Homo sapiens: one gene and its partners. The protein of the gene in region 5 interacts with the protein of the main gene of each other region in a biochemical or structural test. Each region holds a gene or a part of one and is shown on either strand. Other genes may lie near its edges.

Region 1 (2,543 bases), on a different chromosome or scaffold from region 5:
AGAACTAGAGATAGCAGTTGGTCCAGAAGAAGCCAAACTCTGTCTCTAAGTAGTGAAAGCACAAGCAGATCAAGGTCTCGTAGCAGTGATCATGGTAAAAGAAGATCACGGAGCAGAAATAGAGATCGTTATTATTTAAGAAATAATTATGGAAGCAGATACAAATGGGAGTATACTTATTACAGTAGAAACAAGGACAGGGATGGGTACGAATCATCTTACAGGAGGAGGACTCTGTCCAGAGCTCATTATTCTAGACAGTCTTCAAGTCCAGAATTTAGAGTTCAGTCCTTTTCTGAAAGAACAAATGCTAGGAAAAAAAATAATCACAGTGAGAGGAAGTATTACTACTATGAAAGGCACAGATCAAGGAGCCTGTCTAGTAACAGATCAAGGACTGCATCTACCGGGACTGACCGGGTGAGAAATGAAAAGCCTGGAGGGAAACGAAAATACAAAACACGGCATTTGGAGGGTACTAACGAAGTGGCTCAGCCATCTCGTGAATTTGCTTCTAAAGCAAAGGACAGTCATTACCAAAAATCTTCATCAAAATTGGATGGAAACTACAAAAATGAGAGTGATACCTTTTCAGACAGCCGATCATCAGACAGAGAGACAAAACACAAAAGGAGAAAAAGGAAGACCCGGAGCCTAAGTGTAGAGATAGTTTATGAAGGAAAAGCTACTGATACAACTAAACACCATAAAAAGAAAAAGAAGAAACATAAGAAGAAGCATAAGAAACACCATGGAGATAATGCTTCACGTTCCCCAGTTGTAATTACCATTGACAGTGACAGTGATAAGGATTCTGAAGTAAAGGAGGATACAGAATGTGACAATAGTGGTCCTCAAGACCCTCTACAAAATGAGTTTTTGGCTCCTTCCTTGGAACCATTTGAAACTAAAGATGTAGTTACAATAGAAGCTGAATTTGGTGTGCTGGACAAGGAATGTGATATTGCCACACTTAGTAACAACTTGAATAATGCCAACAAAACTGTAGATAATATTCCACCTCTGGCAGCTTCAGTTGAACAAACTCTCGATGTAAGAGAAGAGAGCACCTTTGTTTCTGATTTGGAGAACCAGCCCAGTAACATTGTGTCTCTTCAAACTGAGCCATCAAGGCAATTGCCATCGCCACGGACATCATTAATGTCAGTATGTCTTGGTAGAGACTGTGATATGTCTTAAAACTGCCAAAGCATTTCATTGAGAATTATGATGTTATAAAAAGGAAAAAGGAAGAATGTCGTCTACTGCAGTCTATTTAAAGATGACATTTGGTGAAAACTCTCTTCCTCCTTACAATATTTTAAATGATTTTTTTTTTGGTGTTAATTTGTAAAAATCATTATTTGTTCAAAATGTATGTCCCACCCTCAAAGATATGCACTTTTAAGTGAAGAAAATGATACTGCTAGCAGCTTATTTAAAACTTGGGGTCCTTTTTAAATAAGAAAAATTATATAAATTTTAGAAGTTATTTCATAAAGCCATACGGTATTGACATATTTTTAAGGTAGTCAATGAGTATTTTTGAATTTTTTTTTTTTGAGAGTTATTCTGGAAATGTGTTATAAGCTAGGAGAATCCCTTTGGACAGTCTTTATTTTTCTTCTTAAAAATTTATATGATTCAAAACCATTTCTTCAGGTTAAATTGAGGCATTTTAATCTGCACAGTTTATCTTCTGCCAAAATAAAAATTTACTATTTCCTTTATATACTTGTTTATCTGGACTGCCAGTAAAACAAATGTGTATTCAACAAAAGAAAAAAAATAAAACAGTAACACTTTAAAACAAGAATCAGACATTTTCCTATGCAGTATTTTTTTTTAAAGTTTATTTTAGTAAAGTTAAAATCTTGAAAGTAGCTAAGGGCATAATTATGTCATAAATACTGAACTTCAGGTGAACAAATACTTTATAGTTTTAATTATTTTCTTTGATTTTGAGGAGTATCTTATTTGCTTTCTATCATCAGTAAAAACAGCATTTAACTTGCTAAATAAACATGAAAAACCCTTGTCATACTTCTTTTACATTGGTAGTTCTTTCATATAAAGTGGTTATGTTTTATCTTGTTTTAGGGATGATAAAATTACATCTATGCTGATGTAGGATTGCCACTGAACAGTGGAGCTTGAGTTAAATCTTAATTCAGCCTTCAGTTTGCCTTTGCCTTGCTACTGTATTCATTCTTTATTCAGTAGAAATTGCAGTGCCTACTATGTGGCAGGTTCTGCACTAAGTTTTGGGGTTTTTTTTTTTGTTGTTGTTGTTGTTTTTTTTTTTGAGTTGGAGTCTGGCTCTGTTGCCTAGGCTGGAGTTCAGTGGTGCAATCTCACTTCACCACAACCTCTGCCTCCCGGGTTCAAGCGATTCTCCTGCCTCAGCCTCCGGAGTAGCTGGGACTACAGGCACGCGCCACCATGTCCGGTTAATTTTTGTGTTTTTAGTAGAGGCGGGGTTTCACTATGTTGGCCAGACTGGTCTCAAACCCCTGACCGTGATCCGCCCGCCTCAGCCTCCC
Region 2 (3,500 bases), on a different chromosome or scaffold from region 5:
TGCTCTATAGTACACATTTTTTGCTGACCACTTGGGAATAAGCTACAGATACCATGACCATTTTTGCACCCTGAATACTTCGCACCCTGATACAGGAGTGTGTATGTCTTAAGAACAAGAATGTTTTCTTGGAAAATTATATTTTTGTGTGTATAATTAATCATATTCAAGAAATTTAACATTGATTCAATCTAATGTCTAATGTGAAATTCATGTTTTAATTTTAACAATTGTAATGTCTTTCATAGCAATTTCCCCCTCCCCCCAAGGCAGAGGCAGGGATGGTACACGAGTTCTCTGTCCTCTGGGTGCTACATTAAGTCATGTGATGTCTGTTGTTGGTAACATTAACTTGGTTCCCTTGGTGTCCACCAAATTTCTCCATGAAGCTGCCATTTTATTTTTGGAAGTAGCTTCTTCATAGTTGTGGGGAAAGAGGATTTAGGTGAAATTATTAGGAAAAGGCTTATCAATCCTTGGACATTTTACTCAGATATTACCTACTGGCATGTGTAGTCTCCTTTAAAAAAAAAAAAATGTAGGCTGGGCACGGTGGCTCACACCTGTAATCCCAGCACTTTGGGAGGCCAAGGCGGGTGGATCAGTTGAGGTCAGGAGTTCAAGATCAGCCTGGCTAACATGGTGAAACCCCATCTCTACTAAAAATACAAAAATTAGCCAGGCATGGTGGCGGGCGCCTTTAATCCCAGCTACTTGGGAGGCTGAGGCATGAGAATTGCTTGAACCTGGGAGGCAGAAGTTGCAGTGAACTGAGATCCTGCCACTGCACTCTAGTCTGGGCAGCAGAACAAAACTGCCCCCCCCCCCCCCCCCCCCCCCAAAAAAGTATTTGTTCCATCTTAGCAATGTGTTACCTTTCTCTCTCAATGTGATTGACAGACCAGGTCTTTTTTTATAGTTAGGTGTATACTTCCTCTATAGTTTTAATTTTTCCATTTATCTCATACTGCTTCTCTTGAACTACATACTCTGTTGTATGGGCAGCCTTCAGCTCCATTGCTGTAAACAGTGGTGCAGAAATTTTAGAATTTTAATGAGCTTTTGTGAGAGTACTAGGGCAGCTATCAATGCTCATCTTAAGATGGAACTGGCCATTTTGAGAAACATATCTTTGCCTGTATCTATGTATGTTTATAAGCTAAAGTCTTAGATACAGATTGACTTGGTTAAATGTTACTTGCACTCATAATTTTGTTGGATACTGTTATTGCTGAACTTTTCTGGTATGGCAGCCTAATTTTCTGTCTTTTTCCCCTCCTTTGGCTTCTGAAATCCCTCTGATTATGTTGTCTATGTTGAGGCCTTCTCTTCAGCCTTTGGCCCTCTGTTCTGTCTTCCTCTCCCTCTGCAAGTTTTTTTTTTTTTTTTTTTTTTTTTTTTTTTTTTTTTTTTGAGGCGGAGTTTCGCTCTGTCGCCCAGGCTGGAGTGCAGTGGCGCGATCTCGACTCACTGCAAGCTCCGCCTCCCGGGTTCACGCCATTCTCCTGCCTCAGCCTCCCGTGTAGCTGGGACTACAGGTGCGCGCCACCATGCCCGGCTAATTTTTGTATTTATGGTAGAGACGGGGTTTCACCGTGTTAGCCAGGATGGTCTCGATCTCCTGACCTCGTGATCCGCCCGTCTCGGCCTCCCAAAGTGCTGGGATTACAGGCGTGAGCCACCGCGCCCGGCCCTCTGCAAGTTCTTAACTCTGCGTTTCTCCCTTCCCTTTAGAAGCCATCTCCTTTTCAGTCTCTAGTCCCACCCTATGTTCTAGCTCCCCAGCTACAGCTGCCTGCCCACCTTTTCCACTCAGTCTTCTACCATTCCAGATTTCTCTCTTGTCAATCCCCTTTATCACTGTATCTTCCTTGCTGTGGGGTAGGGTTCCACCTTTAAGTGGGGGCACTTAGGTCTTCTCTCTCCCTGGCATGAGTTTTCTGCACTCACTGGTCTGGTTGTTTACATGTGTTGACAGTAACTGCCGCCTTCTGGCCTTTTCTCCGTGCTGCTGCCTCTCTTCTGGAGCACAATTTTTTTTTTTTTTTTTTTAAGACAGAGTCTCACTCTGTCACCCAGGCTGGAGGCTGGAGTGCAGTGGCACAATCTTGGCTCACTGCAACCTCCACTTCCAGGGTTCAAGCGATTCTCATGCCTCAGCCTCTCAGGTAGCTGGGACTACAGGCGTGTGCCACCATGCAAGGCTAATTTTTGTATTTTTAGTAGAGAAGATGTTTCACTATGTTGGCCAGGCTGGTCTCAAACTCCTGACCTCAGGTGATCTACCGCTTTGGCCTCCCAAAGTGCTGGGATTACAAGTGTGAGCCACTGTGCCCGGCCTGGAGCACTCTTTCATGTCCTCTTTGCCTTTCCAAATACTTCCCAATCTTCAAAAACCAAATCAACCTTTTGTGTGAGGGCTTTTCAGCCTGATCCCCCTCTTCTGAGCATTTCCTTTGTTAAGATGCATGTAAGGCTGTGTTTTACTTCCCTGGGACATTGCTCATCGGCTTATTTTCTTAGTTTTCCTCATGCTTTTGGATTGTCTTGTGTGCTGGATTGGAAGGCCAGTCTAGGCCCCCCACCAGGCTGACTCACTTCTCTGCTTACAGTAGGGAATGAGAAAGGGTGGTATCATGATTTGAACTTTACCCAGTCCCACGTGTCATTTGACTTGAGCTGGAAATTTGCAGTGTTTTTTTGGGCTGCTGATGTGCACAGGAAGGAGTTACTGGCCCTGGACAGTATGTCAGGAAAGCTGTCCTGGAAGAAAGGAGGCCAGACACAGGCCACAGAGGGCTGGTGCAAGCTTGGAAATTGGGTGCCTAAGACCTTGCTTTTGTGTTGAAAGGTTTGTCCGATATGTGCCTCGATGCCCTGGGGAGACCCCAACTACCGCAGCGCCAACTTCAGAGAGCACATCCAGCGCCGGCACCGGTTTTCTTATGACACTTTTGTGGTAAGTCTGGAGCCTGGGCTCTGATCCCTCCCCTGGGGGAGTGGCACGGCTACTTCACTCTTCTCAAAAGGGGAAATGGGGATCCCCAGTGTTGAACTTTGTCGCTGTTGTGATGGGCTTCCAGTCTGTATACTGGATACAGTGATAAAGGGGATTGACAAGAGAGAAAAGAAGACTGAGTGGAAGAGGCGGGCAGGCAGCTGTAGCTGGGGAGCTAGATGGGCTTCCAGTCTGTATACTGTAGCTACTATACAGTTTCTATTCATGGGCCAGGCAGGTGGCCAGAGTGACATTTATTTACTTACATGAGATGGAGTCTTGCTCTGTCGCCCAGGCTGGAATGCAGTGGCGTGATCTCAGCTCACTGCAGCCTCCACCTCCCGGGTTCAAGTGATTCTCCTGCCTCAGCCTCCTGAGTAGCTGGGACTACAGGCGCATGCCACCATGCCCCATTACTTTTTGTACTTTCAGTAGAGACAGGCTTTCACTATGTTGGCCAGGCTGGTCTCGAACTCCTGACCTCGTGATCTGCCCACCTTGG
Region 3 (2,763 bases), on a different chromosome or scaffold from region 5:
GAAGCAACGAAAACTCTGGGGTGAGGGATTGAAAAAATCTGAAATCACAGTTGGATTTTTAAATTCAACCATCAAAAATATGTACTATCAGTTTTTTTTTACATTGATGTGAAATAAGCAAATTTTCATGATAATTAAGCTGCAAAATTTAAAGTTATCAAGTAAATAGGTCCTCTGTGTTCTGTTTCATGTGATGGAGTGGGTTTCAGTCTGTGTTCTTGGAGCCAAAGGGTTCCTCAGGGGTGCCTCAGGAGTAATGGTTTAAGAGAAGAGGGGCAATGAGAGGGAGCGAGGGGGAAGGCCTAGTTGGTATTTGAGCAGGGGCCTTAGGCTCCATATCCCCACCCCCTTTACCCAGAACAGCCCATTTTTCTTATGTATATTGGAATTTCAAGTAAGCTTTCATGGGGTGCAGTGGGGCGGGGAGGAATGGATGGGATAAAAAAAGTGGAGATTTTGCTGCTTTAAAAAAGTTGAGAACTACTTGTGTAGTTTTTAAGTATTTTAATGTATTTCATTTGGCCAAATTCAACTGCCACAAGCAAGCTAGTCATAGTTGTAACTGTGCAGTGGTAATATGCTTATGCCTACCTTTTTCCTCTCAAACAATTTGTTTTTTTTACATTGCATTCTGAGTACTGAAGAGCATCTTGAAATGTATGGAAGTGGTTTCTATGCTATTTGATAATCAGTAATGTTCAGCTGTCATGATAGTACTTTACTGGTTGCAGACCCATCTCTCTTTTATATTAAAGCACTAGTGCAGTTTATAATTGTGCCTACTTTTAAAATCTTTCAGTAAAAAAGTACATAATGAATACAGAAATCATAACTGACAGGGATACAGTAATAATGAAATGCTACTATCACTTATTTTAATATACAATATAAAGCAGGCAAATACCATTGCTTTTTGAGTGCCTTTTTAACTTTATACTAATGACTTAATAGAGCTTTAAAAGAAAGAAATTGGCTGGGCATGGTGGCTCACACCTGTAATCCCAGCACTTTGGGAGGCCGAGGTGGGCGGATCACCTGAGGTCAGGAGTTCGAGACCAGCCTGGCCAACGTGGTGAAACCCTGTCTCTACTAAAAATACAAAATTTAGCCGGGCATGGTGGCGCACTCCTGTAATCCAACTACTTGGGAGGCTGAGGCAGGAGAATTGCTTGAATCTGGGAGGCAGAGATTGCAGTGAGCCGAGATCGCACCACTGCACTCCAGCCTGGGCGACAAGAGTGAGACTCCGTCCCCGCCCAAAAAAAAAAAAAAAAGAAATTACTCTCCATAACAGTCTATGTTATCACCAACATATATAAAAACATGATTTAGATTTCCATTTCAAAGTTACATTACCCGATTACTTCCAAATAGGTGCTAAGCAAAAACCCCCAATGTATTATTGAACCATGGACTTGCACCTCATGTTTAATGTGAATATTTATTTCCATGTCCCTCTTAACTGGTTTTTTCTTGTCTTCCCTCTAGCTGTATTGTTATTTCAGATATGTGATATCTGTTTTCATACTCTTGCCTTTCCATCATGAATGCTTAGTTATGAACAGAGATTCCTTTGTAGAGCTCATAGGCAGTACAGAGAGGTAAGTCTTGCCTCAGAGGGCCTTGTATCTTGGTGTAGTTTTTAAATAGTGCATAGTGTATAGTGTATAGTGTACATTTTGTTTTGCACATAGTTTGTTGCCCCGAATGGGTTTTTTACCAAGCCTTTTTTTCTTTCATGTATTTACAGTCCGGAGCACAAGATTCTCTTCTTTCAAATACAATGTAATTCGCTTTACTTTACAACACTAAATCTGGGCTTTGAATTTCCAGTGCATTGGACTGATTGGATTGTTGGGAGTTAGAGGCTGTTCCAACCATCCTTAGTTTGGGAGAGTGGCTCCTTCTGCTTGTTTTCTAAGCGTACAGTCAACGGGTGCCATTTGTGGTATTTAACATGTTAGGATGATTGTTCCAAATGCTGAGTTGTTTTATTTCTAGATGTAATTAGTTCACTTTATGTAATATTCTTCTCTCAGACTGACTTTAAAAACAAAGTTTTATCATTTTCATTGTATTTGTATTTATTACAGAGTGTTTTAGCTTTGATATTCTTTGTATTTTCATTCATTTGTTACATGAGCTTTATCAGTAACATCTGTATAAATGGTTTTTAAAAATTAACTATGTATGTGCCCATGCCGAAGTCGAGCAATAAAATCAATGCTGTTTGCACTGTCACAGCATCAACGTTTTTAAAGAATATTGAGTTTGTAATGAATCGTTTTGAAAACATTTATGGTTGGCTCTATGGAGGGTGACAACATGAGTCACAAAATGAAAAGTTCAAGAACACATGCCATCCTGAGTTGATGCCTCTGTCATGTTGCAGAGCTCAGCTTTCTGTCTCCTCGCAGAGCAGGGAAGGTGCCCGTTTTCTCCGGCCGTGGTGACTGCTCAGTTGGTAGTACCTGTTGGGGGTACCGCATAGGTGGATTTCTGAGGGGGGTCAGGGGCTAGTGGGGAAGAGCATCTTGGTCCTGTCACCAGTCTGCAACCATCTTTGCTATAATACATCTCCGCTCTGTAGGGCAGGCCTATGACAGGGGCTCATATTTGCCAGCCCTACCTTGGTATGTCGAGCAGTAAAATTCTCAAAATGAAAAGGAGAAATCAATTGTATTTTTTCTAGAAGCTGTGGATTTTAAGGTTTATAATTCACTACTGTATTAATGATAGTGGACTAAAGTCCAGCTAACTCTA
Region 4 (4,104 bases), on a different chromosome or scaffold from region 5:
AGACAATGTTGATCAAGATTAATGGTGCCAACACCCATTGACCTAGCAATTCTACCTCTAGAAATTCTCCCTACATAAATACTTATACATGTAAACATGAAAATACAAGAATTTAGGCTTGGTGTGGTGACTCACGCCTGTAATCCCAGCACTTTGGGAAGGCAAGTCAGGAGGATCACTTGAGCCCAGGAGTTCCAGACCAGCATGGCCAACATAGTGAGACCTTGACTCTACAAAAAATTTTTTAAAAAATTAGCCGGGGGTGGCATGCATCTTTAGTCCTAACTACTGGGGAGGCTGAGGTGGGAGGATTGCGGGGTGGGAGGCTGCAGGGAGCTATGATTGCACCACTGCACTCCAGCCTGGGCGACAGAGCAAGACCCTGTCTCAAACAAATAAAAAAATTAAAGCATAACCTGTAGGAGATAGCTCAATGAATGCTGATGTTTAGAAGAAAGATTTGGGTTATCTCCGATTATTTTAGAAAGGAGATGCATTACAGAGATCAGGGAACAGTCTCTGAGAAGGATCCCCTGGGTTTTATGGCCATACCTATTGCTTTTAGCTGTATAACCTTGAGCAAGTTACTTACCTGAGCCTCAGTTTCTTTATCGGTAATCTGCATTATAGCTGTGTTGTGAAGGTTCAGTGGGATGGTGCCTGCAAAACCTCCCCCGCCTCGAACCTGACACATAATAGGCACTAAGCGTAGCCGTAATTATTATTTAATAAATATGTTGTTCTATGTGGTGATGGCAGATTAAGGGGCTACTTTGGTGATATAATCTGCCCTCCTGGGGTAGAGTTGAGGGCTTTGGAGTTGGGTGAATTCCTCTCTAGCACTCACTAGACTTCGAGCACATCATTCCCTAACCTCTATGGCCTCACTTTTCTCATCTGTAAAGTGGCCAGAATAAATTCCAAGTCTTGAGAGTTTGCTCTGAAACTTAAACGTATATTACTCATAAGAGTTTAATACACAATTATTTTATTTCCTGCCAATCTAATGGCGAAGACATGGAATAACCCATCAAACAGCCCAGTAACCCCAGGAAACCAGAGGGACGGAAACCAGGGCGATGGGCGAGTCAGTCATGGCCAGTGCGCCGTGTTTCGAAGGGGACGGCCATGGAGCGGTGGGTGGTCGCTCAGCTCCCCAATCGCTCTCCGACACCCGGCTGGGGAGACAGGACCTCCCTGGAGGCCGCAGCAGCTTGATTGTCACCCGGGCAACCCCACCTTCCGGTTCCCTCTACAACCCCTTGCCCCGCTTCCGGTTCCGGCGTCGTGCGTCATCGCTGGGCGACTGATTTCGAGTTTCCGGTCAGGTTAGGCCGGGGGGGTGCGGTCCTGGTCGGAAGGAGGTGGAGAGTCGGGGGTCACCAGGCCTATCCTTGGCGCCACAGTCGGCCACCGGGGCTCGCCGCCGTCATGGAGAGCGGAGGGCGGCCCTCGCTGTGCCAGTTCATCCTCCTGGGCACCACCTCTGTGGTCACCGCCGCCCTGTACTCCGTGTACCGGCAGAAGGCCCGGGTCTCCCAAGAGCTCAAGGTCAGTGCTGGAGCCGGCCTGGCCTCAGCCGGGTCATCTCTGTCCCAGGTGCTGGGGAGCCCATGATTCACCTTGGCCGCCCCACCGTCGGAAACTGTCCAAAAAAGGAAACAGCCTCTGAAGGGTGTCATCCAGCCAGTAGATGGAGGAGCGAGGGGCAGGATTCGGGCTCGGGATAACGGCTGCTCCGCTCCTTTTCTCCCAAGTCCCTCTTATGACTCAGAATGAATCTTGACTTCATTACTTTACTCGAAAAATATTTATTGAACACCTGCGATGCTCCAGGCAGTGAGTCGAACAGATGAAAGTCCATCCCCTCGTGGAGATACCATTTTAGTACGACTAGACAGCAAACATGTAAATCAGGCGGTGTAACAGATGGTGAGCAATGCTTTAGAGTAAGGTAGGGGAGAGAGGACATGGAATGCTGGAGAAAGGGGGATCTCCTATCTTAAATAAGGTGACATTTGAGCAGAGCCTAGGAGGAGATGAGGGGAGTCATGCAGATATCTAGCGGGAGATGGAAGGAACAGCAAGTGCAGACATCCATTTACTGAACCACTCCACTCCTTGCTTTACAGACGCTTCCTTTTTATATTACAACTATTTTTATAAATGGCGCTTTTTTCTGAACTGTGCTTTACGGTTTACACAACACATTTGCATTTATTTTTATTTTTTATTTTTTCGAGATGGAGTCTTGCTGTGTCGCCCAGGCTGGAGTGCAGTGGCGGGATCTGGGCTCACTGCAGCCCCTGCCTCCCGGGTTCAAGTGATTCTCCTGCTTCAGCCTCCCGAGTAGCTGGGATTACCACGCCCAGCTAACTTTTTTGTATTTTAGTAGACACAGGGTTTCACCATGTTGGCCAGGCTGGTCTCCAGCTCCTGACGTCGGGTGATCTCCCCGCCTCGGCTCTCCGAAGCGTTGGGATGTAAAGGCGTGAGCCACTGCGCCCAGCCACATTTTCATCTTGATTTTATTTTTTTCTTAACAATAATTTTTTTTCCTTTCTTTCCTCTCCTTTTCTTTTCTTTTTCTTTTTCTTTTTTTTTTTGAGACGGAGTCTCGCTCTGTTGCCCAGGCTGGAGTGCAATGGCACGATCTTGGCTCACTGCAACCTCTGCCTCCCGCGTTCAAGTGATTTTCCTGCCTCAGCCTCCGGAGTAGCTGGGATTACAGGTACCTGCCACCACGCCTGGCTAATTTTTGTATTTTTAGTAGAGATGGGGTTTTGCCATGTTGGCCAGGCTGGTCTCCAACTCCTGACTTCAGGTGATCCCTCTGTCTCAGCCTCCCAAAGTGCTGGGATTACAGGCGTGAGCCACTGCGCCTGGCCCACAATAATTTTTTGAAGTAAATAAAATGACAGTTACCACCACATTGCAAATCAGAAAATTGAGATTTGGAGGAAAGGCCATACAGCTAGTCAGCTTGAAACTTAAATTTAGGTCTTTTGATTCCAAGGGTAGGATTTTAATCTGATTGACATTGCTTTATTGTGACTATCTGACTGGTCCAGAGAGATGGACCTCTTTAGGTCAGAGACAGGGTCTTATTCATCCATTCTCTTTCCTCTAGCTTCTAACACAGTACTTGGCAAGTGGTAGATGCTCAGTAAATGTTTGTGGGTTCTTTTTGGCTGAAGTTTCACAATACAAGAGCTAAGGGCCTAACCTAATTTGATGTTTATATGAAAGATGGATTCCTAAACCTGACTAACTTAATTATCAGATTGTTTTCAGTAAGGGTTTAGAAACTAATGTGTGGGCCAGGCTACTCCAGCCTGGGTGACAAGAGCAGGACTCCATCTCAGAAAAAAAAGAAACCAATGTGTGAACTCCAGTCCCTGCCATGAAGGGAGTTTTGGAATCTGGAAAGAACCAAGTTATGAGGCAATTGGATTTGCTGTGCAGTGGCGTTATAGTGAGATTCCAGCTGCCCTGTATTTCTCCTGATTAAATAATCAAGTTAATCCTGAAGTGATTAGCTCTGTGTATCTGATACTTCACTTTCTGACTCCAAACCACTTTGGCCTCAAGTTGGCTGGAGGAGGGCTTCTTTGAAGCAGTGAACTCTTTAGGTCTCATCTTTGGGTGACCTTAAAACCTTTGCCAAACAGTTCCTAAATGAGGATGAAATAGCCCCTTCCTGGAAAAAAAGTTGGGACTGTTAATATTTTAGATTCTATTTTCTATTTCCTTCCTCTCTTTCTCCCTCCCTTCCTTCCTTTTCTTTCTCTTTGGCCTTCCTTCCTGTCCTTCATTTCTTTCTTCTTTCTTTTTTTCTTTTTCCTCTTCTTTTTTTTTTTTTTTTTTTTTTTTGAGACATGGTCTTACTCTGTTGCCCAGGCTGGAGTGCAGTGGCACAAACATAGCTCATTGCAGCCTCGAGCTCCCAGGCCCATGCCAGTCTCCTGCCTCAGCCTCCTAAGTAGCTAGGACTACAGGTGCACACCACCACCTCCAGCTAATTTTTTATTTTTCATAGAGATGGGGTCTTGCATGTTGCTCATGCTAGTTTTGCACTGCTGGCCTCAAGCAGCTATCCCACTT
Region 5 (3,500 bases):
GTATAAAAAAATGAGGTAACCTATGACAGTTAAAAAGTTCTGAGATTTCTTCTCTGTGGAAATAAATAGCCTAGAACTAAATAAAGCTGTTTATGCCTATTTTAAGAAGCCAGGCACATATGAAAACCAAACCTAGCAGGATGTGGGATTGCCTCCAGGAAAGCAAAATAGCGTCCTTACTCGCTTTAGTTCCCTGAAATACGCATAGAAAACATATGGGCCCTTTATTTTCATTTAATGAGTGCTACTAATAGAAATGATAAACCTAATATTTAGCCATAAAACTGAGTTAATGGTCATCTACTAATGTAATAGTCCCTGCCTTTTTAATAGTGAATAAACTGATTACATTGAATTAACAACAGGAATTGAGATACTTATCCTCTCTCCTCTCCTGTGAAATGCTGGAATAAATGATACTAGAATATATAATATGACCATATTTGCAGTTTGGGAATTGGAGGGGTAGGTCCTCAGGCCACCTTAGCACATGTGTCTGAAGGCAGGACAGGTTTTATTTCTGGCCCATCTTGGTCTTGATGGTCTCTGAGAAGCTAAGGTTTTTCTGTGCTTAATTTGGTTCTGAGATGAATCTGTGAAGGTTCAGTTTCACACATTAGACAATAACAGGCTGTTGTGTTCCAGGATTGTCCTTAGTATGGGGAGGAAGCTGCTATCTAGAAGCATACAGTCTAGTGCTGTCCATTCCACCATCATGCTCTGCATCCTCTTGTCTTACCTCTTTCTGGATGTATTTCCCACTGTCCTCTATTCATATGGTCCCGTTTGTATGGCTCATCTCTTTTAGTGACACCACAGTTCTTATTTAGATTCCTGGGTTTTTTTTCAGACTTAAGAAACTTCTCCAGTGGGGGTGAGCTGAGGAGTTGGTTCCTTCACCTTAAGCTTCCTCAGATAATAATCTGATTGTTCTCATTCTAGGTGGCCACCCTCCTTATGCGAGCAGAGTTTGGGAGTAGTATGGTTGGATTGTCTAGAGAAAACCAAGTGGACCTAACAAATGGTCTGGGTTCATTTTTCTTCTCTTCTCTTAAACCAGGAAATCTCTGGCTTGTGTTTTTGCTTCTCCCAAATTTTGCTGTATTTTGTTTTCACTTAAATTTAAAGATATTTTCTAGTTTTCCTTTTTATCTCTTCTTTGACCCTTGGATTATTTAGAAATACGTTATTTATTTGCCATATGTTTGGAGATTTTACAGATAGCTTTCTGTTGTTGATTTCTAATTCCATTATGGTCAGAGAACAAATTCTATTATTATTTGACTCCTTTTAAATTGTGGGTACTTGTTTTTTTTGGTTTTTTTTTTGTTTTTTTTTTTTTGAGATGAAGTTTGCTCTTGTCGCCCAGGCTGGAGTACAGTGGCGCGATCTCGGCTCACTGCAACCTCTGCTTCCTGGGTTCAAGCAATTCTCCTGCCTCAGTCTCCCAAGTAGCTGGGATTACAGGCGCCCACCACCACACCCAGCTAATTTTTTGTATTTTTAGTAGAGACAAGGTTTCACCATGTTGGTCAGGCTGGTCTTAAACTTCTGACCTCAGGTGATCCACCTGCCTTAGCCTCCCAAGTGGGGACTTGTTTTATGACCCAGCCTTTTCAGGTGCTCAACAGCACTTTTGAATGAATGATGGTTAATAGTTTGTAGACTTCATTTTGGTATTTTCCAGTTGGTATCTATTGACTGTAGGTTATTTCTAAGAAATGGATGCCAAACTAAGGTGTACACCTTCCCAGTATCTTTTTTTTTCTCTTTTATGAGTTTCCAAACAGTTTAGTGAATAATAAACATCCACTTTTTAAAATGGAATAGAAAATATTAGTGCTTTGCATATAGTAAGGGTGTTGTTTCATGAAATTTGTTTTAGTGTGTGTGTGTGTACTAGGTTGTAATGTAAAATCTTTTTCATATTATAAATTGCTGTAAGGAAAGCTGGAAAATCACTGTTCCATAACATAAGATCCTTAGGTAAAATTAATGTTAAAAATACATGCCATACAACCATACATATACATGTATACATATATAGGGAGAGCAAATGAATACATATACACATACACAGAGACACACAAATATATTGATACACATATACACATAATGTAAACTGTTCTAGCCTTGGAAACGTTTGCATTTGATACAGACCGTATGCATTGTTTTCTTCTACAAGTAGCAGCATTTTAGTGACTGATGTACAACCATAATATTCAAGAATAATACTGGATGATACTAACAGAGAGTAGAGAATTTATTATGAAACACTCAAGTGCCCACTATATGCCAGTTATTAGGTATAGAGCTGTAAGAAGCAATATTTAATAACAAATATTTGGTAGGTATTGGTAGGCATGTTCATGTTTTACACACGTTTTAATAAATAGGCAGCTAGGTTTTCTCTCTTTTTTCTTCCATCTTTTTTTGGTTACTGTAAAGTAAATAGTAAGTTTTGATAATGGAGCACTCAAAATGCTCCATTTGCATATTTTATGTGAAAATTCTATTTATTTAAGTTGTGTATAATTTCCTGTAAAGTTTTTCTTGACTCTCAGAGTGTCTTTAAACACAACGCTCCTGAAAGCTTATGAAATAGTATTCGTTTCTAACCTTTTATATGATATAAGCTCCTGAGAAAAGATAAGAATTCCTTCTCATTCCTTCACTTATCACACTTTTGTTTCTCTGGAGCATAGCTAAAAATGTGCAAATGGCCTTAATACAGTACTGGAGCATTGTTTGCTTCAGTGTTGGTTGAAAATAATGTGCTCTAGCTGTTACAGTGTTGAGGTGAGTATTGAATTGGGGTGGGAAGAGTGCTGGAGTAGAAGTCAGATGGTCTGTCCCTTTGTCCTAGTTTGGCTTTGTGACCTTGGCCAGGAGACTCAGTCTTTATACTCCTCACTTGGAAACTTAATGGATTGAACTTGATACTTTCTGTCATCTCTTCTGAATCATAATTTTAGGCAAACCTAAATAATGTATTTGCTGTTTTTTTTTTTGCAGCAAACAACAGTGATCACAAAAACAAACACTGAGCTTTGGCACTGTGCTATGGAGCTATATTAGACTTGACTTAAAATTCCATTTACTTTGAAATATCAGATTTGAAATAAATGTTGACATCTCTTAATGTATAAGGTCAATAAATCTTATTCTCTAACTAAAGAGCAATTATTTATGATGCAAATAAAATGTATTTCTATTATTGCACTGGTAACATAACGTGGTTCTCTAATTCCATTTAGCTTTTCTCTATTTGTTAGCTTTTGTACTTAAGATTGTTTTATCCACATATTTAGACAACTGCCATACACAGCTGCACAGCTGCCTTATAGGTAATAGTTTTTTTGTTTTTTTTTTTTTTAATGACAAAGTCTGGCTCTGTCACCCAGGCTGGACTGCAGTGGCATGATCTCAGCTCACTGCAACCTCCACCTCCTGCGTTTAGGGGATTCTCATGTCTCAGCCCCCTGAGTAGCTGGGTCTAC
Region 6 (3,500 bases), on a different chromosome or scaffold from region 5:
GCATTTCAGATGTTTTAAGCTCCGGAGCCCAACTTGCAGCTTGCTTTCAGGAGTCTGGAGGAGCATGTCACGAAGCTGCAGATTGTAGATGGCAGCCTGCGTTCTTTGTATGTTGGGCATCCGCTGAGTTCTCTAAAGGGCATGATGCTTTCCTGTGGTTCCAACACTGGACTGGGGATCAGAAGGTCTGAATTTGATTTCTAATTCACACAAGTACCACAATGAAGAAAGGGGAGGGGGTGCATAGGATTATGATCTTTTCATGATTCAGTTTTCCTATCTTTAATGCCAGAGATCTGTCTTTTTAGAGCACAAAAGGACCTGCTAGAGATGGATTAAATATTTTAATGAGTAGTTATGAATTATTTATAGAGTAGCACAGTATTAATACAGTCATAGATTCCTGTTATGTCTTATTCCTAAATAGCCAGGTAAATAATAAAGCTAATAACGTACTTTGACATTGAAGAAAATCTATAGAACCGGTTAATAAACATGGAAAAATAATACAATGAATTGATAAATTATGTATTCAGAAATTCCTTAGAGAAATAGTGTTAGAAGCCAAAACCAGTATTATCTTTATTTTTATTTTATGTTTTTCCCAGGCCAGGTAATGTGCCATCGGACAGTATCATGTTTATTTTTTGTTTTGTTTGGAGATGGGGTCTCACTCTGTTACCCAGACTGGGGTGCAGTGGCACCATAACAGCTCACTGCAGCCTCGACTTCTTGGGCTCCAGTGATCCTCCCACCTCAGCCTCCCGAGTAGCTGAGACCACAGGCATGTGCCACCACGGCTGGCTAATCATTGTAGTTTTGGTAGAGATGGGGTTTCGCCCTGTTGCCCGGCTGGTCTTGAATTCCTGAGCTCAAGCAATCCACCTGCCTCAGCCTCCCAAAGTACGTGGATTACAGGCATGAGCCACTGCACCTAGCCAGCATCATCTTTAAATGATGAAATTGTGGAAACATTCCCATTAAAATCAGGAACAATGCAGGGATGTACACTGTCAAAATAGTTATTATTAATAACTAGAGAAAGACATCAGAAAGCAGGAAACAAAATTGCTGTTATTTATAGACGTTATGATATATCTTTAAAAGCCCAAAAGATCAGCTGAAAAACACTTATAAACAATAAAAAACTTTAGCTGGATGGAAAATTTCTCCATGGCAAAAAATAGGATAAAATCAACATGCAAAGACAAACTAGGAACAACAATCTGTAATGGATACGAAAATGAAAGTCTGGTTTTCCTAATATATAAAGAGCCTTCAAAATCAATTAGGAAAAGGCCAGTACCTAATAGGCAAAGAATATGGACAATTCACAGAAAAGAAAATGGAAATGGATTTGAAACATGTGAAAAGACAACCCTATTTTCTCTCTTCTTCTTTCCTTTTCTTCTTTAGAGATGGGGTCTTGCTCTGTCGCCCAGGCTAGGCTAGAGTACACTGGCGTGATCATAGCTCACTGCAGCCTGGAACTCCTGGGCTCAAGCGATCATCAGCTTCCTGAGTAGCTGGGACTGCAAGTATATGCCGCTGTGCCCTGTTCTCTCTTATGCCCATTTTCTTTCTCTAAAAATTTATTTTTAATTGATAATCAGCCCTATTCATACTAAACAAACTACAAATTAAAAGTAAGAATGAAACAATTTTTCATCTAGAAGAGTGGCAGATCAAAGAGATTGAAAATCTTCTGTGATGAGACAAGAGTGTGGAAAAACAGGTCTTTTACTCTAGTGGTTGAGAATATAAATTGATAGAGTAGGTACCAAGAGCAGTTTGGCACTGTCTATCAGATCATAAATGTTTATGCTCTTTGATCTAGCAATTCTGCATGTAGGACTTTTTTCTTATGGGTGTTTTCACACATTTATGTAAAGTCCGGTGTGTAAAATCATTGCAGCATTGTTTGAAATTATAAAAGACTGAAATCAATGTGAATGTGTATCAGCAGGGACTAGTTAAGTAAATTATCGTGTATTCCCAATGATGTGTAGCTGTAACATAATAAGATAGTGTTTTATATTCTGATATGGAACATTCTCCAAGATATATTATTGAGTGGGGGGAAAAAGCATGATTCAAAACAGAGGCTAGTGTGTGTACTATTTGAATAATAAAACAAGAAATAAAAATAAAGGGGGAAATCTATAGATAGGTCTGTATAGAATACGACTGAAAGATTTTGACTGTTGATTTCCTTTGAAGAGATTCTCCTGTTCTCCTCTTCAGAGGAAAGAGAGAGGAGAGAGGGAGAGAGGAGAGAAAAGAGAGAAGAGAGGGTGACTTTTCATTATATGCCTTTTGTAATATTTAATCTCCTCCCTTTTCTCACCCCCTTGAGCATGTATTGCTTTTCAACAATTAAAAAGATTAAAAAGCTCTTAAATAGATAAGAATTTCTTAGAGCAACTAGTAAGTACACTAACTGCCAATTGTTTTGAAATGTAGACATTCTGAAAAATCAAAATGATTGTGCCGAATGTATTTTAAAAGGCTAAAATATTATAGCATTTCAAAGTACATACTCATATTTATAAGGACTTCCTCACTAGGAAGATTCCTGGGTTCTACAGAATAAAATTCTTGGCTACTTGTCTTATAGCTCTGAACAGACTTATTTTCCCAGAGAGTATGTTTATTATGTAATAGCGAGTTGCCTGACCCCCCAAAAAGCTTGTTCTATCATATTAAAATAAGGCAAAATGATTACTTTCAGATTAAGAAATTTGGACTCTAGATCTTGTTTATATAGTGAGTTCTTTAAAAAACTGAGGTCTTGGTTCTGAATAATAGTGGTTTACATAATTTATTTAGAATGTCATTTGGGGTTATCTCTGACCTATTTTTATAAAATAATCTCATCTTTAAAATAGGAGTAAAATGCTCATTTGCATAAGCCAGTAATAATAATTTAGTATTTTTCCAAGTATTTATAGTCAATGTGTTTGCCATGAACTTTTTTAAGGGATTGTTTTTAATTTTAGAAGTGCTTTAAAAAGCAATATTGGCATCTGGCTCTGTAGAAGTAGAAAACATGGTAACTTCAATGTGATATATTTGCTTTTTTCCCCTCTTAGGTCTTTGGGGTAAAAAAAATCCAAAGTTTACTCAATTTTATTTCTACATATATTACCTACAAATTATAGAGGTGAGACCTGCTTGCTGCCTGTTCATACCTGTCAGTGATACTAATACCTCCCGTCTGTACAGTGTTTCATAGTTTCCAAAGGGTTCTCGCGTGGTTCCTCACTTGAGCCTGGTGAGGAAATACCTGTAAACATGGGTAGAAGTTTTAGTCCCTTGTAAAACTCTGGTATAATATCAAAACCAGGAAATTGTTCACAGATTCTAAGGATTGGGGAAAAGAGAAAAATAAACAAATTGCTCAGGAGTAGAATTTGCAAAAAAAAACGAAACAAAACCAAAAAACTCTGGAAATAAGGCACGTTTAGCCTTACAGAGCGAGACCCTGTCTCAAAAAAAAA
Region 7 (2,925 bases), on a different chromosome or scaffold from region 5:
CAGAGCCATCTGCGACACCACCAACAGGCGTTCTCAGCCTCCGGATGACACAAATACCAGAGCACAGATTCAAGTGCAATCCATGTATCTGTATGGGTCATTCTCACCTGAATTCGAGACAGGCAGAATCAGTAGCTGGAGAGAGAGTTCTCACATTTAATATCCTGCCTTTTACCTTCAGTAAACACCATGAAGATGCCATTGACAAGGTGTTTCTCTGTAAAATGAACTGCAGTGGGTTCTCCAAACTAGATTCATGGCTTTAACAGTAATGTTCTTATTTAAATTTTCAGAAAGCATCTATTCCCAAAGAACCCCAGGCAATAGTCAAAAACATTTGTTTATCCTTAAGAATTCCATCTATATAAATCGCATTAATGAAATACCAACTATGCGTAAATCAACTTGTCACAAAGTGAGAAATTATGAAAGTTAATTTGAATGTTGAATGTTTGAATTACAGGGAAGAAATCAAGTTAATGTACTTTCATTCCCTTTCATGATTTGCAACTTTAGAAAGAAATTGTTTTTCTGAAAGTATCACCAAAAAATCTATAGTTTGATTCTGAGTATTCATTTTGCAACTTGGAGATTTTGCTAATACATTTGGCTCCACTGTAAATTTAATAGATAAAGTGCCTATAAAGGAAACACGTTTAGAAATGATTTCAAAATGATATTCAATCTTAACAAAAGTGAACATTATTAAATCAGAATCTTTAAAGAGGAGCCTTTCCAGAACTACCAAAATGAAGACACGCCCGACTCTCTCCATCAGAAGGGTTTATACCCCTTTGGCACACCCTCTCTGTCCAATCTGCAAGTCCCAGGGAGCTCTGCATACCAGGGGTTCCCCAGGAGAGACCTTCTCTTAGGACAGTAAACTCACTAGAATATTCCTTATGTTGACATGGATTGGATTTCAGTTCAATCAAACTTTCAGCTTTTTTTTCAGCCATTCACAACACAATCAAAAGATTAACAACACTGCATGCGGCAAACCGCATGCTCTTACCCACACTACGCAGAAGAGAAAGTACAACCACTATCTTTTGTTCTACCTGTATTGTCTGACTTCTCAGGAAGATCGTGAACATAACTGAGGGCATGAGTCTCACTAGCACATGGAGGCCCTTTTGGATTTAGAGACTGTAAATTATTAAATCGGCAACAGGGCTTCTCTTTTTAGATGTAGCACTGAAATCCTTGCTGGAGGGAAGAGAGGGGATGAACTCAAGTTTTCCACATCCTGGGACACCTGTCCCTCTTTTCCTAACTGCCTAAGATAACCCATTTCTTCCAACCATCTGAGGACAGTCCCGTCGTCTCAGAGGCCCTGCACCGGGGAGAGACTGGGCTCTGCAGCAGCCACATCAGCATTCACAGCTTCATGTGGCTTCACTGTCTGAAAATCTACCGACTCCAACATGGCCCCACGGTGACAACAGACCTGTGACAGGAAGCCCAAAGCTCACATAGAAATGGTGGACAGATCAAAGTCTCTATAGTAAGGGAAAAAAAGAGAGGTGGCAGGCATGAGCCCCCTGCACCCAGTGGCTCGTGTCCATACTGAGTCCAGACCCTGATCAAGGCCTGACTTAGTGTCACTGGCAGTCCCACTAAATTACACTTCCTTACACTGGCCCGATGCGACAAATCAGGTGGCTCCCTTCTGTCACGTGGAGCACACAGTGTTTTCCATCATCCATAGCTTTCTTCCTGATGGTGTTTGCATTATTGCGCCTTCCCAATCTGCATGCTGCGTTGGGCTTGCGGTGCCTGAACAAGGTTTGCTCCCATGAGCTCAGGCACCCTAGGATCCCCTGTTAGACTATTAGGCTGTCCAGCATGGTCTCCTTTCCCTTCTTGGTGGTGGTCTTTTCCCTTTCCAGAATAGAACAGTGATTCTTAAAATAAGTTAGAGCAGGCCGGGCGCGGTGGCTCATGCCTGTAATCCCAGCACTTTGGGAGGCCGAGGTGGGTGGATCACGAGGTCAGGAGTTCAAGACCAGCCTGGCCAAGATGATGAAACCCCGTCTCTATTAAAAATACAAAAATTAGCTGGGCGTGGTGGCAGGCACCTGTAATCCCAGCTTCCTGGGAGGCTGAGGCAGGAGAATCACTTGAACCCGGGGGGCAGAGGTTGCAGTGAGCCGAGATCACGCCACTGAACTCCAGCCTGGGCAACAGAGTGAGACTCTGTCTCAAAAAAAAAAAAAAAACAAAAACAAAAAAGCAAGATCATCCACTACACATGAACATGAATCACAGTATTATTTGCACAGGAAGGGTGTAACAAAATATGAATGTATCAAAAAATAGAAATAAAGTCTTTGCAGAAAAAGTCTGTTTTTCTCTGAAGTGTGTTGAGATTATCTGACAACTCTAAGATTGTACTTAAATTGTCAATAAAGCATCAAAAGAGCTTCTGAGTCTGTCTTTGAAGATACATTTTCAATCAATGTGAAGGGTGACGGAGGGAATCACAGGCTGTATTACTCCATGGGCCTCACTTGTGGCCTGGAGGAATTACCTGGTGATGAAATAGCCATTCAGTGACCTGGAGGAATTACCTGGTGATGAAATAGCCATTCTCATATCAACTCCAAGCTCCAGATTACCGCTGGCTGTTTCTCTTTGTTAAATAAGAGTAGTTTTTTAAGGCTATCAAAATTTGAAAGGGTTCCAAAAAGCAAACCCTCATTCATAAAAATCTAAAAGTTACTTTCCTGCCTTACTAGCAAACTTTTCTAATAAAAGTGTTTAAAAGAGAAGTTTGCATTGGAAAAGACTATCTATAAGGATTTTTTCTCATGTCATTCTAGAAAATTTCAGTGACTTTGCATTGCTGTCAATGTGGGTGTGTTGACGCTGCATTTTCAAAGAACTGCTTTAGTGGCCATGCATTGTTTATTTCACAATGAG

Evidence for each region.
Region 1: the proteins of UBE2D1 (region 5) and TOPORS form a complex in vitro, tested with the Homo sapiens proteins (3 studies listed by BioGRID).
Region 2: the proteins of UBE2D1 (region 5) and RNF114 form a complex in vitro, tested with the Homo sapiens proteins (3 studies listed by BioGRID, with this or other methods).
Region 3: the proteins of UBE2D1 (region 5) and SMURF2 form a complex in vitro, tested with the Homo sapiens proteins (4 studies listed by BioGRID, with this or other methods).
Region 4: the proteins of UBE2D1 (region 5) and MUL1 form a complex in vitro, tested with the Homo sapiens proteins (4 studies listed by BioGRID).
Region 6: the proteins of UBE2D1 (region 5) and SMURF1 form a complex in vitro, tested with the Homo sapiens proteins (3 studies listed by BioGRID, with this or other methods).
Region 7: the proteins of UBE2D1 (region 5) and PRKN form a complex in vitro, tested with the Homo sapiens proteins (3 studies listed by BioGRID).

The regions. Positions count from the first base shown.
Region 1 is NC_000009.12:32,540,044-32,542,586, reverse strand, and holds the end of TOPORS (E3 ubiquitin-protein ligase Topors), read left to right. Parts: coding exon 1-1,200; 3' UTR 1,201-2,043; downstream 2,044-2,543. UniProt on the Homo sapiens protein: Functions as an E3 ubiquitin-protein ligase and as an E3 SUMO1-protein ligase. Probable tumor suppressor involved in cell growth, cell proliferation and apoptosis that regulates p53/TP53 stability through ubiquitin-dependent degradation.
Region 2 is NC_000020.11:49,946,397-49,949,896, forward strand, and holds part of RNF114 (E3 ubiquitin-protein ligase RNF114), read left to right. Parts: intron 1-2,851; coding exon 2,852-2,959; intron 2,960-3,500. UniProt on the Homo sapiens protein: E3 ubiquitin-protein ligase that promotes the ubiquitination of various substrates. In turn, participates in the regulation of many biological processes including cell cycle, apoptosis, osteoclastogenesis as well as innate or adaptive immunity.
Region 3 is NC_000017.11:64,541,782-64,544,544, reverse strand, and holds the end of SMURF2 (E3 ubiquitin-protein ligase SMURF2), read left to right. Parts: 3' UTR 1-2,263; downstream 2,264-2,763. UniProt on the Homo sapiens protein: E3 ubiquitin-protein ligase which accepts ubiquitin from an E2 ubiquitin-conjugating enzyme in the form of a thioester and then directly transfers the ubiquitin to targeted substrates.
Region 4 is NC_000001.11:20,505,352-20,509,455, reverse strand, and holds the start of MUL1 (mitochondrial ubiquitin ligase activator of NFKB 1), read left to right. Parts: upstream 1-1,304; 5' UTR 1,305-1,431; coding exon 1,432-1,551; exon of another isoform or gene 1,552-1,929; coding exon of another isoform or gene 1,930-1,932; intron 1,933-4,104. UniProt on the Homo sapiens protein: Exhibits weak E3 ubiquitin-protein ligase activity. E3 ubiquitin ligases accept ubiquitin from an E2 ubiquitin-conjugating enzyme in the form of a thioester and then directly transfer the ubiquitin to targeted substrates.
Region 5 is NC_000010.11:58,341,506-58,345,005, forward strand, and holds part of UBE2D1 (ubiquitin-conjugating enzyme E2 D1), read left to right. Parts: intron 1-3,500.
Region 6 is NC_000007.14:99,134,109-99,137,608, reverse strand, and holds part of SMURF1 (E3 ubiquitin-protein ligase SMURF1), read left to right. Parts: intron 1-3,500. UniProt on the Homo sapiens protein: E3 ubiquitin-protein ligase that acts as a negative regulator of BMP signaling pathway. Mediates ubiquitination and degradation of SMAD1 and SMAD5, 2 receptor-regulated SMADs specific for the BMP pathway.
Region 7 is NC_000006.12:161,346,917-161,349,841, reverse strand, and holds the end of PRKN (E3 ubiquitin-protein ligase parkin), read left to right. Parts: 3' UTR 1-2,425; downstream 2,426-2,925. UniProt on the Homo sapiens protein: Functions within a multiprotein E3 ubiquitin ligase complex, catalyzing the covalent attachment of ubiquitin moieties onto substrate proteins. Substrates include SYT11 and VDAC1.